2 linked regions of the Homo sapiens genome follow. The protein of the gene in region 1 purifies or fractionates together with the protein of each later gene. This does not show direct contact. Each region holds a gene or a part of one and is shown on either strand. Other genes may lie near its edges.

Region 1 (5,165 bases):
GCTGGGACCGCCCAGGCCATACCCAAAGAAATGACTCCAAAGACAGTAAGTGGGCCAGGAAGACAAAAGGCTGTTCTCTTGCCATGAATATGTGTATCCAACCATCGTTCAGAAGTAAGAAGTATTATATTATTTGTATCAGGCCTTTCTCTTGAGGCCACCCAGATTTTAAATATTTTCCCATCTGCATGAGAAAAATGCTTGAAAGTGTCATGTAAACTGACAATTTAAATAGAATAGATAGAAAGATAGAGGATGGGGGTGGGCAGATGATTCCTTGGGTAGAATGGAACTTTCTCCAAGTTCTGGAGGCTCTAATGGACAAGATGCCAACCTCGGGAGTTTTCCTAGCCGGACCTCTTGAATCTGTCCCAGGCCAGGTTTGTCAAGCTACTGTTTGCCTCTAATAAGTGTCCTGCCTTAGTTCTTTTCTTTTTCCCTGGAAAATGTATTAAGCATTAGACAAAAGTGTGAGATCAATGGAATTTCTATTAGTTGAAGGACTTAGCAATAAGAATGTCTACATGAGCATTTCTCAATTTACAAAAGTATTTCCACATCATTCATTCATTCATTCAACAAACATTTATTGAGGGTTTACTTTGTGCCAGGCCAGTGCTATCTAGAATACAAATAGGGTCTCTGCCTTCATGTTCCTGGGGCAATTTTTACTTGTCTAGGAAGCAGTGTGGTGTGGTGGTTAAGCACACAGGCTGTAGATCAGACTACTTGGGTTTGCACCTCAGCTCCCCGTATTTGTGTGCCTTGGGAAAGTTATTTAACCCCTCTATGCCATACTTTTTTTTTCTTTTTCTTTTTTTGAGACAGTCTTGCTCTGTCGCCCAGGCTGGAGTGTAGTGGCGTAATCTTGGCTCACTGCACCCTCTGCCTCCCGGGTTCAAGTGATTCTTGTGCGTCAGCCTCTCCAGTAGCTGGGATTAAAGGCGTGCACCCCACGCCCAGCTAATTTTTCTATTTTTCGTAGAGACAGGGTTTTGTTACGTTACTTAGGCTGGTCTCGAACTCCTGGGCTCAAGTGATCCTCCCACCTTGGCCTCCCAAAGTGCTGGGATGATAGGCGTGAGCCACTGCACCTGGCCTCTATGCCATAGTTTCTACATCTGTAAAATCGGGATGATAATATTAGTACCTCCTGAGCAGAGTTGTTTGAGAAAGGTATCTAAAGTAGGGGCAGCTTAGATAGTCTAAGCCACTGTCATTTTTCATCGTGTCTCCTAATTTGTCTCCTTGCTTATAACCTCCACCTCACTCTTACTGTAGTACTGAAGTGGAGGTACTAAATAGATCCAAAATGACTGCTTGGGGAGACTGACTCTAAGCCACTGTCTACCCAGCAGTCATTTTGGATCTATTTAAAATATAAGCCAGATCATGTCACCACTATCCCCCACCTCAGCTGAATTGACTTCCCATCTTTTATAATAAAACCTAAGCCCTTACCCTGGCCCCAAGCCCCCACATGATCTACCTTCCTGCCACACAGACCCTGCTGGTCCTCAGATGTGCCAAGCGCATTCCTGCCTCAAGGCCTTGGCACTTGCGTTCTGTCTGCCTAGAACCCTCTTGCCCCAGATCTTTCCACGGCTGGCTCCTCGATGCTCCTGAGGCCCAAGAGAAGCCTTCCTGACCACATGTTCTTAGATCTCACCCTCTTTTATTCTTCCCATAGCACTCGTTAGACTTGGCATTCTCTTTTTGGTTTTCTGCCACTGCCACTAGACTCTAAGCTTCATGAGAGCAGAGGCCTTGTCTGTGTTATCACTGTGTTCTGGCATTTGGAGCAGCATCCATACATGATGGGTGCTCAGTACATATCTATAAGGATGAATAAATTATAGTCTAGTGTAAAAGACATGTCAAATGTCAAGAATTCAGTTTCAAAGAATAATAATAATAGCCATCACTTATGTTCAGTTTACTATGTAGCAGACGCTGCTCTCGGCACTTTACATATGCCAACTCATTTAACTTTAGTACTCTCACATAATTATATAATCTCTATAATTATCTCTGTTTTACAGAGGAAGAAACTGAGGCATGGCAAACTTTACTAACTTTTCCACAGTTAATAAGTGGTAGAGCAACTTCAACTATAGCCCTGTATTTAATGCATGGCATCACAGGAGTGACAACATGGGACCCAATCTAGACTGGGTTCAGGGAGTGCTTCTTATTGGGCCTCACAGAAATTCATTGAGGTAGATATTATTATTCCCACTTTATAGGCAAAGAAACTGAGGCTCAGGGAGTTTAAGAGATTCATCCAGGACTGTACCACTAAGAAGTGACAGAGCAAGGACTTGAGACCAGAGGCCTGTCCTCTCCACCATGCAGAACAGCCCACAGGTGGGGTCAGGCCAGTAGTTCCAGGGGCCCATGTTTAGTAAACAGGACGCCTGTTTATTTTTCCTCCATTTTGGGTCCCTTGCACACTCTTTCTCTATCTCGCTCCACAGGCCATCCCATCCATGCCGACCCTTTCCAAACTGTCCCTCTACCTGGGACCCCTCTCTGTGGGCCCCATGATCAGGGCCTGGGGTGAAACAAAGCTGCTAGTGCCCTGTGTGTGGAGGAAATTCAAGGGCATGGCCACCCTGCCTGGCTCTACAGGTTTGATAAGGGAGGGCTCCTGGCCCTGGTCAGAGGGGTCCAAGGAGTCCTTTCTGCCAACTTGGAAGGTCCTTCGGGGCTTGGTAGGCTTGGAATGGGGTGTCAGCAGCCACTTGGATGCCAGATAAACAGAGGGGCACTCCTAGGCATGGAGCACCAGCTGCGTTCCTTCCTTGTCTTAGGCCACGAGAAATGAGGTCTCTGAACAAAGAGCACTGCCCAGCCCATCTGGGGGCCTGGATCCTGATGATTGTGGGAGAGAGGGAGGGATTCATTTCCCAGATTGCCCAGCCTTTCCTGTCAGCCCAAAGACACGTTGGACTCTAAAATTTTGTATAGTTTAATCCCTCCTCAGCACAAAAACAAAGGTAGTAATCATGATATTATTAAAGAAAAAGGCTTTATTTATGGCAGGACTGTGATTTAATTTTACATGTGTTTGTAGAGGGGTGTGTGTGTGTGTGTGTGTGTATCCCCATTTGTGGTCTGAACACATCTTTATTATTAACTATGTGATCAAATAACAGCCTTCTTATTTGGATAAAGAAAATAGAACTTATTTAAATGAGATTGAGTCCCGCTTATGTGCTGGTATAGTGGAGAGAAAGTACTTTCTTGTTGATTTAAACTCTACCCTGTTTCCTCCTCTGTCAGATAGGGACAGTCATGCCTGTATTACATGATTAGTGTGGGGATGAAATGAAGAGCTGTGCATGTGATGTGCTCAGTAGACATAAGGCCATTCCACATTGGCTGTGCCTGTTCATATAGAGAGGTTATTTCTGGGAAAATGAGAGGTCCTTTGTATATTCTTTGAGTGGTAGTCATGAGGAGAGTAGTTACGTCAATACAAGCTCAAGTGGATGGGCATAATCGCTTATTGGGCCCCTGCTAAATGAGAGTCAGTCTACAGGTTGTCCCCTGAAATCTTTAGATTCCCCCTGTAAATATAATTATTTTCTGTGACTTACAAATGAATACACGAGGCTCCGGTTAAACATTGCGCACAGAGTGTAGTTGAAAGGGTGCACACTCCTCCGTTGACATTCTGGCTCTGCCCTTGTTCCCTGTGTGACCACAGGCAAGTTACTTAACCTCCCTGAGCCTCAATTTCCTCACTGGTAAAATGGGTCAGTGGCTGACACACAGATCGGGCTAGTCCTAGGTATGGCCAGCTGTGCTCTTCCCACCATGTGCAGTGGCTCACACCTGTAATCCCAGCACTTTGGGAGGCCGAGGCGGGCGGATCACCTGAGGTCAGGAGTTCGACACCAGCCTGGCCAGCCTGGTGAAACCCCGTCTCTACTAAAACCACAAAAATTAGCTGGGCGTGGTGGTGGGCGCCTGTAATCCCAGCTACTTGGGAGGCTAAGTCAGGAGAATCAATTGATCCCGGGAGGCAGAGGTTGCAGCGAGCCAAGATCGCACCACTGCATTCCAGCCTGGGCGACAGAGCAAGACTCCGTCTCAAAAAAAAAAAAAAAAAAAGAGAAAAAAAGAAATATGTTGGGAGGCGTGTGGTGGACTGTGGCTTTTATCTTTTTCTGCCATCTGTTTCCAGGACAAGAATCAGGGTTTTGTTTTGGTATTTTATTTTGGAAACAGGGTCTCACTCTTGCTCACGCTGGAGTACAATGGTGTGATCAGAGCTCACCGTAACCTCAAATTCCTGGGCTGAAGCAGCCTGCTGCTTCATCCTGGCAAGTAGCCAGGACTACAGGTGCGCACCACCACACCCAGCTATTTTTCTTATTTTTTGTGGAGACTGGAGTCTTGCTCTGTTGACCAGGTGGTCTTGAACTCCTGGTCTCAAGCAGCTCTTCCGCCTTGGCCTCCCACAATGTTGGAATTACAGGTGTGAGCCACCAGGCCTGGCCAGGGATCCATTTTGGATTAAGACACACCAATTCAAAATGGACTCCCTCGGTACCGAGTGGCAGAAAACCCCCACTTCAGTACTCCAGTAAGAGTGAGTCCCAGAGCAAGGGCCCCAGAGGGAGGAGACACAGGAGTGTGTTCTTACCTCCCCTGCCACCCCCACCCTGCTTAAGCACCAGGAAGTCCAGCTGCATACCCACCAGGATTTAGAATAGTAGGGGTGCACACATTGTGCTCCCCCAAAAATGTCTGTAGGGTTGGACTACTTTAATGACTGGAGACCACTTTTTGATAAACTGGATATTCCGATCTACATTGTACAAAACAGGAAGGTGCTCATTTTCCTATTTGCAGGTGACATAGTTATATTCTCTTAAGCTGGGCAAGCTTTTATGATAAACTCTGGCCTGACTTCACAGGAAGAAGGGTCGCAGATGGCCTATACTCAAATCAAAGTGCTTATCGGATTTTCTGTAGGAAAGAGTAGACCACTCAGGCCAGGTTCGATGACAGCCACTTCACTGCAGCTCAGGCCAACCTGAGATTTGGAGCTGGCTATAGTCAGTAATGGCAATTGCTGTAGTTCTCCCGGAAAGATATTTAAATGTCACACCACCCACAACCCCCTTCAAATATGTAGTTAGCCAAAGTTCTGC
Region 2 (5,165 bases), on another chromosome or scaffold:
CAGGATATTTACATCCTCTCAAAGTATCTCCCAGAAGATACCATTTACAAAGGAAAGGCAGAAACTTTACAGTGGAGAAACCAGGCAGAATCCATCTTAACTAAGTGATCAAAATTAACATCACCAATAATAGAACAAATCAACATTAGCATCTTCAAATGAAGCACTGAGAAAAATACATCACATCTATATTACCGCCAAAACTGCATAATGTGGATCTAATCATAACCAGATAAACCTCAAGTGAGAGACATACTATTAAAAAAGTAAATAGGCCGGGCACGGTGGCTCATGCCTGTAATCCCAGCACTTTGGGAGGCCGAGGCAGGAGGATCACGAGGTCAAGAGTTCTAGACCAGCCTGGCCAATGTGGTGAAACCCTGTCTCTACTAAAAATACAAAAATTAGCTGGGTGTGATGGCATGTGCCTGTAATCCCAGCTACTAGGGAGGCTGAGGCAGGAGAATCGCTTGAACCCAGGAGGTGGAGGTTACAGTGAGCTGAAATCACACCATTGCACTCCAGCCTGGGCAATAAGAATGAAACTCCATCTCAAAAAAGAAATAAATAAATAAAAACAAAACTGGCCTAAACCCTTATATAATGTCAGTGTTATAAAGACAAGATTGAGGCACTATTCTAGATTAAAGGAGACCAGGCCAGGCGTGGTGGCTCATGCCTGTAATACCAACACTTTGGGAGGCCAAGGTGGGCGGATCACCTGAGGTCAAGAGTTTGAGACCAGCCTGGCCAACATGGTGAAAACCCCGTCTCTACTAAAAATACAAAATTAGCCAGGCATGGTGGTGCATGCCTGTAATCCCAGCTACTTGGGAGGCTGAGGCAGGAGAATTGCTCCCGGAAGACAGAGGTTGCAGTGAGCCGAGATGGTGCCACCGCACTCCTGGGCAACAAGAGTGAAATTCCGTCTCAAAAAAAAAAAAAAAAAGGAGACCAAAAGAAAAAAAGAAAAACTGAATGCACCACATGGCTGGTTTTTTGTTTTGTTTCACTTTGTTCTTGTGTGTTGGATTTTTATTGTTTTTGTTGCTCTAAAGGGTATTCATTGATAAGTCAATTGGGATAATTGATGAAATATGAATAAAGCCTATAGGTTAGCTACAACGATAGTATTTAATGATTGTAAAACAGTTAATAAGAGAATATCCTTGTTTTTAGGAAATGCACATTGAAGGATTGGGTATTATATCTGCAACTTTCTCTTCAACAGTTCAGTGGGGCAAAAGGAGAGAGAGAAGGATAAAACAAATGTGGTAAAATGTTAACATTTGGGAGATGTGGTGAAGGTTATAAAAGAATTCTTTGTACTATTCCAGCAATTTTCCTGTATGTCTAAAATTAGATTAAAATTAAAAACTAGAATAAAAGAGTTAAGCAGGTAATTTATACTTGTTAGGGGTCAGGATAGTGAAAGTTAATATCTGACATGAAGTGCCAAAATATAAACCTAACTGCAATATGTTCTGAAAAGGTTGCCTAAGCCAATTATGTCCTACATACACCTTCTAAAGAATGAGACTTGAAATAAAATGGATCTACTTAGGACCTTACTTGAGGATAAAAGTTAGTAAAGTACCCAAAGGACTGGATTATAAATTAGCAGACTCATCTAAGCCATGCAGCCCAATGTCACTGTACCATATGGAAATTGAAACACGTGCCTTCAGACAGTGGTTGAGGAAGCATTTTTCTTCTAAAAGTTTGGAAAGTGAATTACCTTACCTAGAAATGTTTGGTTCTATTTTAGATTAATTTAAAACCATTAAATATGAATACAATTGTATAAGAATAAATGTATAGAATAGAATAGGATAAAAATGAAAACATTCTGGCTGCATTAGTACTAAAGCTAATGTGATGGATATAAAACTTCAAGGAATCCACAACAAATCTGTAATTTGTGAAAACTTTCCTTAAAATTTAAAAACCACTACCTTTTCTTCAGAGCATTTCCAGAAAATACCATGAATATACAAGTCAGAAAAATTATTGCATGTGCTAAAACAGAGACAATCAACATCAACTGAAGAAATGGCTTCACGGGAAAAAGGATTGATGGTTGTTTGGAAATATGCCCACAAATTATTTGACTCTCCCCTCAAAAAAGGTGGAACCTAACTGCCTTCCTCCCTGAGTATGGGCTAGACTTAGTGCCACGTTATAACAAATCAAATATAGAAGGAGTAACAGTGTTATATTCAAAACAGGACATAAAAGGCACATGGTTTCCTCCTTGCTCTCTCTTGCATCACTTGCTCTGGATGAAGCTAGCTGACATGTTATAAGGATACTCATGCAACCCTATGAAATTTCTGAGGTCCCCTACCAACAGCCAGCAAGGAACTGAGGCCTCCTGTCAACAGCCATGTGAGTGTACCATCTCGGAAGCAGATCCTCCAGCCCCAGCCCCAGCCCCAGTCAAGCCTTCAGATGACTGCTATAGCAATGGTCAAAAGCTTGATTGCAACTCATCAGTGACTCAGCCAGAACTACCCAGCTACGCTGGTTCTGAATTCCTGACCCACAGAAATCATAAGATTAAAAAATGTTTGTTGTTGGCTGGGCACGGTGGCTCACGCCTGTAATCCCAGCACTTTGGGAGGCTAAGGCGGGCAGATCATCTGAGGTCTGGAGTTTGAGACCAGCCTGACCTACATGGAGAAACCCCGTCTCTACTAAAAATACAAAATTAGCCTGGCGTGGTGGCGCATGCCTGTAATCCCAGCTACTCCAGAGGCTGAGGCAGGAGAATGGCTTGAACCCAGGGGGCGGAGGTTGCTGTGAGCCGAGATCGTGCCACTGCACTCCAGCCTGGGCAACAAGAGCAAAACTCCATCTCAAAAAAAAAAGTTTGTTGTCTTAAGCAGCTAAATTTTGGGATAATTTGTTACACAGCAATAGATAACATAGAATTTGATTTAACAGTTATTCCATTTGCAGAATTATAAATTTATAGAAATATTTCTTGTAAAATTAACTGAAATTAACTATCATTTACAAAGATAGTTACAGTCTATATTTCCAGGAATGTATAAAATAGGACCAAAGAGTGACTTAGTCAAACTGCAAGGAATGAAAACCTTGCAAGTCAGAATAACTACACTGAACCATAAATAGAATGTATTAATTTTGTAAATAGGTTTAAAAATAAACACCTAAGTGGAGGAAATAAGTAATGTGCAGAGAAGGGAGATTAGCTGGGAAATCTCAGGTAAACATTGTTTGGGGTGAAGTTTTAAGGGATTTTTTAAAAGAGTTGACTTTACTAAAATGTAAACTTGAAAAATGTAAACTTGAACTGTACTTGAAAAAGTACAGTTCCTCCTCTAGAAAACTTGGCACCTATACATAAAGAAGTGGGGCTGGGTGCAGTGACTCACACCTGTAATCCCAGTACTCTGGGAGGCCAAAGTTGGAGGATCCCTTGAGCCCAGGAGTTCAAGAACAGCCTAGGCAAACAGTGAGACCCTGTCTACATAGAAACAAAAATAAATTAGCCAGGCATGGTGGCATGCACCTGTCATCCCAGCTACTCAGAAGCCTGAGAAGGGAGAATTGCTTGAGCCCAGGAGGTCGAGGTTATAGTGAGCTAGGATCACACCACTATACTCTAGTCTGGGCAAGAGAGCCAGACCCTGTCTCTATTTGAAAAAAATAAAAATAAATAAAAAGTGGGAAATCTGAATATTCATGTAAGATCTCCTGTGAGTCAACTAAAAAATAACTGGGGTCAAATACAGCACGTCTTCATAGGAGAATCAGCACTGGGGCCATTAATTATCCAGCCCCCATTCCCTTCCATCCCTAACTATATTATCAAATTGTCTTCAAACATTTAGGCAGTTACTAAAATTCTAACTTCCTCCAGTAACTTTTCCTAAAACAGTAGAAATGAGACTGCATTTCTACATCAAGATATTAACATGCTGAAGACCCATGGTGACATAAGGAATTGGCATGAAGTAAAAAGAACACAGGCTGCAGAGTCCACACCTGGGTCTGTACTGGAGCCCAGTCCCACTTCTCACTGGCCACAAGCTACAGACAAACAGTTCCCATTCTGGAACTCAGTTACCTTATTAGTAAAATGGAGATAATGTCAAATTGACAAGGTTGTCATTACAAGGATGAAACAGTATATAGAAAGGGCCTTGCATAATGTAGCCATTAGATAAATAGCACCTTGTTTTTAATTACTCTTTTGCTTATATGCATTATGCATATACTTCCCAAATCAAGAAAATAGGGACACAGACTGCCAGAATATTTTTGTGTCTCATATTCAGATGCAAAGGCAGCCCAGGAGGTTAATGTGGACTTATGACATGTTATAATTTCTGAAACATTACAATAGCTTATGAGTTGCTGTTAAAACTGAACACTTAGCTGCTTAAGAAGCCAGAGTACCTAGTCTGTAATCAATATTTATACAGTACTTATCGTATTCTTTTTATTACTCCAAATATGTTCTTTCTCCTCTATCAAATTACAAATTTGATTGCTAAAAAAAAAATATACATCTCTATACGCGTCATGGCCCCATCCCTATACTCGTCATGGCCCCTTGAATACATAAGGCTGAATGAATTTAACTTCAAGTCCTCAATGTCTCTTCCTTCAATATAATCTTAAGATTATAAAAGTCAGGCTCCTTCACCCTGACAATATGCATACATGTGTGCACATTCCTTTCCCCAAGTAAAACCAGAATTAGGTGCACAAGGCAATTATTGTTTTCTCTATGCCCAGCACTTCACACGATTTCTGGCACACTATAAATGCTTAATGAATGTTAGCTGGGAGATAAATGAGAGAGAACAAGCACCTAGGCAGAATAGTGAGTAGCTAAGCTGTCAGTCATGAAGCTCCAATTTAACTCCAATTTCACTCCCTTTACAAATGTGTTTATAATTTTGCACAGCTACTGTTTTATTTCCTTATATAGTGGAACTCCCTTATAACTTCCTCTCACTAGGACTAACATGTGTGCTATATGCCAAAAGTCTTCAGTATATGAAACATGTAAAACCCAAAGAATATTGGCAAGCAAAGAATATGTCCTTAGATTCAGATTCTCTACATCCATGTTTCTGTGATTATACCTCTTCCTGTTTCTTTCCTGTGGGTTTTGCTCATTTCACCCA

Evidence for each region.
Region 2: the proteins of MTURN (region 1) and BTBD9 purify together in Homo sapiens (affinity purification with mass spectrometry; one large-scale study listed by BioGRID and IntAct). This does not show direct contact.

The regions. Positions count from the first base shown.
Region 1 is NC_000007.14:30,137,315-30,142,479, forward strand, and holds part of MTURN (maturin), read left to right. Parts: intron 1-5,165. UniProt on the Homo sapiens protein: Promotes megakaryocyte differentiation by enhancing ERK and JNK signaling as well as up-regulating RUNX1 and FLI1 expression. Represses NF-kappa-B transcriptional activity by inhibiting phosphorylation of RELA at 'Ser-536'.
Region 2 is NC_000006.12:38,629,269-38,634,433, forward strand, and holds part of BTBD9 (BTB/POZ domain-containing protein 9), read right to left. Parts: intron 1-5,165.